2 separate regions of the Homo sapiens genome follow, and region 1 is linked to region 2. The links come from fine-mapping of genetic effects on gene expression. A gene starts in region 2. The other region holds a variant in brackets. All regions are shown on one strand. Distances are from middle to middle. Region 1 overlaps SLC44A2 (solute carrier family 44 member 2 (CTL2 blood group)). Region 2 holds the start of AP1M2 (adaptor related protein complex 1 subunit mu 2).

Region 1 (2,911 bases), 47 kb after region 2:
AATGTCTCAGCACCGTAGTTAAGGATGCATACTCTGGTATCAGAATAGCAGAGGTTCAAATCCTGGCTTTGCCAATTCTTTGGGCAAGTGCCTCAACCTAACTGTGCTTCAATTTCTTTCTTTTTTTTTTTTGAGACGGAGTTCTGTTCTTGTCACCCAGGCTGGAGTGCCATGGCGCGATCTTGGCTCACTGCAACCTCCGCCTCCTGGGTCCAAGCTATTCTCCTGCCTCAGCCTCCCAAGTAGCTGGGATTACAGGCATGCACCTCCATGCCCGGCTGATTTCGTATTTTTAGTAGAGATGGGGTTTCTCCATGTTGGTCAGGCTGGTCTCGACCTCCTGGCCTCAGGAGATCTGCCCGCTTCAGCCTCCCAAAGTGCTAGGATTACAGGCAGGAGCCACCGCGCCCGGACTGCTTCAATTTATTTCTCTATAAAATGAGGGTAATTCATATTTCTAGTTGGCAAACTAAATGACAAGGAGGTAATGAGCAGATAAAATATGGGTAGGGGCCTGTTTAGTTCAGGCCTGTGGAATCCAGAGGCACAATATCGTGCTCAACAAAACAGTGCTTCATATTTTGGATTTTTGTTGTTTTTGAGTTGTTGTTTTGTTGTTGTTGTTGAGACGGAGTCTTGCTTTGTCACCCAGGCTGGCGTGCAGTGGTGCAGTCTCGGCTCACTGCAATCTCTGCCTCCCGGGTTCAAGCAATTTTCCTACCTCGCCTCCCGAGTATCTGGGATTACAGGCGCACACCACCATGCCCGGCTAATTTTTTTTGTATTTTTAGTAGAGATGGGGTTTTACCATATTGGCCAGGCTGGTCTCGACTTCCTCGTGATCTGCCTGCCTCGACCTCCCAAAGTGCTGGGATTACAGACGTGAGCCACCGCGCCCAGCCTTGATTTGTTTTTTGAGACAGAGTCTCACTCTGTCACCCAGGCTGGAGTTCAGTGGCACAATCACAGCTCACTGCAGCCTTGACCTCCTGGGCTCAAGTGATCCTCCCGTCTTGGCCTCCCAAGTAGCTGAAACCACAGGCAAGCACCATCATGCCTGGCTAAATTTTTAATATTTTTGTAGAGACAGGTTCTCCCTATGTGGCCCAGGCTAGTCTTGAACTCCTGAGCTTGAGCAGTCCTCCCGCCTTGGCCTCCCTAAGTGTTGGGATTACAGGCGCAAGCCACTGTGCCTGGCCCATATTTTGATTATTCCTTGAACTTTCCTGGAAGAAAAATGCTTGGCAATCCAATTTGAGGACACTCATAGTAAAATATTCATATTAATAGTGGTTTCTAGCTGGGTGCGGTGGCGCACGCCTGTAATCCCAGCAATTTGGGAGACAGAGGTGGGCGGATCACCTGAGGTTGGGAGTTCGAGACCAGCCTGACCAACATGTAGAAACCCCATCTCTATTTTTTTTTTTTTTTGAGACAGAGTCTCTCACTGTCGCCCAGGCTGGAGTGCAGTGGCGCGATCTCAGCTCACTGCAACCTCCGCCTCCCGGGTTCAAGCAATTCTCCTACCTCAGTCTCCTGAGTAGCTGAGATTACTGGCGCCCACCACCACGCCCAGCTAATTTTTTTTTTTTTTTTTTTTTTTTGTATTTTTAGTAGACACGGGGTTTCACCATGTTGGTCAGGCTGGTCTCGAACTCCTGACCTCGTGATCCACCCGTCTTGGCCTCCCAAAGTGCTGGGATTACAGGCGTGAGCCACCGCGCCCGGCCAACCCCATCTCTATTAAAAATACAAAATTAGCCGGGCATGGTGGC[G/A]CATGCCTGTAATCCCAGCTGCTCGGGAAGCTGAGGCAGGAGAATCGCTTGAACCCGTGAAGTGGAGGTTGCGGTGAGCCGAGATTGTGCCATTGAACTCCAGCCTGGGCAACAAGAGTGAAACTCCGTCTCAAAAAAAAAAAAAAAGAGAGAGAACTTAGACCATGGCAGCATATGATTATGATTCCAAGTAGGGGGAAAGGGTTCTGGAAGTTCTCTTCTGAAGGTGACACTTGAGCAGAGACCTAAGGATGTGTGGGATCCAGCCATGGGGAGAGAATGCACCGGGCGGTGGGAACTGCAAGTGTAAAGTCCCTGAGGCAGAAGCCTCGATGTTTGCTTCTGTTAAATGGGGGCAGTTGTAGCTGCTTTGCAAAGTTGCAGGAGGCACTGCTGGACTGAGCTTGTGGTTCCCCCATGCAGGAATATTTCACTGCTACATGGAGTACTCCCGACTGCGTGGTGAGGCCGGCTCTGATGTCTCTTTGGTGGACCTCGGCTTTCAGACGGATTTCCGGGTGTACCTGCACTTACGGCAGACCTGGTTGGCCTTTAGTGAGTCACAGTCTCCCATTCCTGCCCCCACATGAGGCCTTGGAGGGAGTGGGGAGCCCAGCCGGCTCAGCCTTTGCCCTTTGCAGTGATCATTCTGAGTATCCTTGAAGTCATTATCATCTTGCTGCTCATCTTTCTCCGGAAGAGAATTCTCATCGCGATTGCACTCATCAAAGAAGCCAGCAGGTGGGGGGCCAGGGTGCCAGGGGCCAGGATGGAGCTGTCCCTAGAGTTGTGTCTTTTGCCCTGACGCCTGTGTCTCTGCTCTTCCCTAGGGCTGTGGGATACGTCATGTGCTCCTTGCTCTACCCACTGGTCACCTTCTTCTTGCTGTGCCTCTGCATCGCCTACTGGGCCAGCACTGCTGTGTATCTGCCCCCAGACACTGATCTCTGACCCCAGGGATGGCTAAAGACCAACTTTGCCTAGAAGTGACCTGCAGCTTAGGGATAGGGCTGGAAACTGGTGGGAGAATGGATTCTTTCCCACAAAAGTCCCTGGGGTCCTCAGTCCTAGACCTCTGCTTCCTTAACGAACCTCCAGCTTCCTGTCCACTTCCAACGAAGCGGTCTATAAGATCT
Region 2 (2,911 bases):
CAGGGGGATAGCTGGGGACCAGGAGTTCAAGACCATCCTGGACAACATAGCAAGACTCCATCTGTACAAAAAAATAAAAATAAAAAATAGGCCGGGTGCGGCCGGGCGCAGTGGCTCATGTCTGTAATCCCAGCACTTTGGGAGGCCGAGGTGGGCGGATCACGAGGTCAAGAGATTGAGACCATCCTGCCCAACATGGTGAAACCCCATCTCTACTAAAGATACAAAAAATTAGCCGGGCGTGATGGTGCGCGCCTGTAATCCCAGCTACTCAGGAGGCTGAGGAAGGAGAATCACTTGAACCTGGGAGGTGGAGGTTGCAGTGAGCCAAGATCATGCCATTGCACTCCAGCCTGGGTGACAAGGCGAGACTCTGTCTTGAAAAAAAAAAAAAATACAAAAATTAGCCAGGCATGGTGGCATGCACCTGTAGTCCCAGCTACTCGGGAGGCTGAGGCAGGAGAATTGCTTCAACCCGGGAGGTGGAGGTTGCAGTGAGCCAAGATGGAGCCACTGCACTCCAGCCTGGGTGACAGAGCAAGACTCTATTTAAAAAAAAAAAAAAAAAAAAATTAAAAATAGCCGGGCATGGAGGGGTCAGCCCGCAGCCCCAGATATTCAGGAGTTTGAGAGCAGCTTTGGCAACATAGCGGGATCCCTCTACAAAAAAATGTCAAGAATTAGCCAGGCATGGTGGCCTGCACCTGTGTAGTCACAGCTACTCCGGAGACTGAGGCAGGAGGATCGCTTGAGCCCAGGAATTCCAGGCTGCAGTGAGCTATGATCGCACCACTGCACTCAAGCCTGGGAGACAGCAAGAGACCCTGTCTCCAAAATAAAAAAAGACAAGAGGAATAAAAGGACTTCAGGAAGAGGCAAGGCAGCCACAGATGGGGGGAGTTAGAGGCCCCTGTTCCAGTTGCCTTCCCCAGGTATTAACACTGTGGATGCCGACAGTGATGGAGATAATTTCAATTTGCTGAGTCCCTAATATTTCCAGAAAGGCCACTATGCTAAGTAGTTTACACGCAGCGAGTTGTATTAATTCTCATTGGGTGGGGACCTCTGTTGCTCCCATTTTTACATACAGAGAAACTGAGGCCCTAGGAGGCGAACCCCTTGGCCTCAGGCACAAGGCGAGTGGATGCTGGAGGTGGGATTCCCAGGGATTGCAGGGGGAGGGGGTGTTCCCAGACCTCTTCCTGGCCCGCGCGGAGGGGTCGCCCCTGAATCCCTGGGAGCGAGACCTCACCTGTCCGTCTCCCAACTCCTCATGCCCAGCCTCACCTTGCCCTTAACGTCCAGAATGAAGACAGCCGAGGCGGACATGGTGGCGGCCGAAGGACTTAGGAGTCGGGGAGGGAGCGCCGGGAGGCGATGGCGGCGCCGCTTCCTTCTTCCTGCGGAAGCGCCTGCGCCCAGGTGAGAGCCCAGGTGTGTGCGTCTTAAAGGGGAGGCGGCCAGGTGAGCAGCGCTGTCGGCCAACTTGAAGATGGCTGCGGGGCCGGGAGAGGTACTGCGACTTCAGATGGGTCTGCTGCCCCCCTTCACTTTCCCTAGCCACCCAGGAGTAATGACGGGTGGAGACCCCAAACCAATCAACCATCCTTCCATCCATTCATTCATCCTTCCTTTCATTCATCTATCCATCCATTCGTCCATCCATCCATTCATTCTTGCATTCATTAATCCATCCACGCATCCACTCATTTAGCCATTCATTAATCCATCTTCCATCGATTCATTGATCCATCCTTCCATTCGTCATCCATTTCTTCATCCATTTTTGCATTCATTTATTTGTTCGTCTATCCATTATCCATTCATCCATCCATTTATTCATCCATTCATTCATCCCTTCTTGCATTCATTCATTTATTCATCTTTCCATTCATCCATCCATTCATCCATTCTAACATTCATCAATTTATTCATCTATCCATCCATCCATCCATCCGTTCATCCATTCTTGCATCATTAATTTATTCATCTATCCATTCATCAATCCATCCATCCATCCATTCTTGCATTCATTAATTTATTCATCTATCCATTCATCCACCCATCTATCCATTCATTCATCCTCTCATTGATTCATCCATCCATTCACCTTCTTTCTCCTCTGTCTCACCCACACACGTCAGCCCCCATACAGCAGGGACTTTGTCTTGTTCATGTTTATGTCCCTAGTGCTCAGCACTGGGTGCTCAAAATTTGCCCAATTCATTCATTCACTCATTCATATAATAATTTTCACTGGTGAATTTTACTGACTGAATTTGAAATATTCATTCACTCAGTAACAGGAACTGTGGATATAATTCCGAGCAGGACAAATGTACTTGCTTTTATTATTCTTACAAATTTACTCTTATTCATTTCAAATAAAAAATTTATTTTTTTTTGTTTTTTGAAATGGAGTCTCACTCTGTTGCCCATGCTGGAGTGCAGTGGAATGATTTTGGCTCACTGCAACCTCCACCTCCCAGGTTCAAGCAATCCTCCTGCCTCAGCACCCCTAGTAGCTGGGATTACAGGCAAGCGCCACCATGCCCAGCTAATTTTTTTTTTTTTTTAGACTCCAGGCTGGAGTGCAGTGGCATGATCTCTACTCACTACAACCTCCGCTTCCCGGGTTCAAGGGATTCTGCTGCCTCAGCCTCCCAAGTAGCTGGGATTACAGGTATGCGCCATCACGCCTGGCTAATTTTGTATTTTTAATAGAGATGGGGTTTCACCATGTTGGCCAGGCTGGTCTCGAACTCCCGACCTCAGGTGATCCACCCGCCTCAGCGTCCCAAAGGGCTGAGATTACAGGCGTGAGCCACCGCACCCAGCCAAAAAACTTTTTTTGTAGAGACAGGGTCTCACTCTGTACCCTAGACTGGACTGCAGTGATGCAATCATGGCT

What was found.
Region 1: its variant is fine-mapped to the expression of AP1M2 in whole blood (TOPMed, PIP 0.92).

Annotation. Positions count from the first base shown.
Region 1 is chr19:10,632,558-10,635,468 of GRCh38, forward strand. It overlaps SLC44A2 (solute carrier family 44 member 2 (CTL2 blood group)), which reads left to right. Exons shown (of 22, transcript NM_020428.4): 11 at 2,199-2,330; 12 at 2,417-2,516; 13 at 2,606-2,698; 14 at 2,874-2,911. Among named protein-coding and RNA genes, the nearest start is that of SLC44A2, 8.5 kb to the left of the region's middle. The variant G/A (reference allele first, on the strand shown) is at 1,776.
Region 2 is chr19:10,585,903-10,588,813 of GRCh38, forward strand. AP1M2 (adaptor related protein complex 1 subunit mu 2) reads right to left here and starts at 1,410. Exons shown (of 12, transcript NM_005498.5): 1 at 1,288-1,410. The coding sequence starts at 1,329.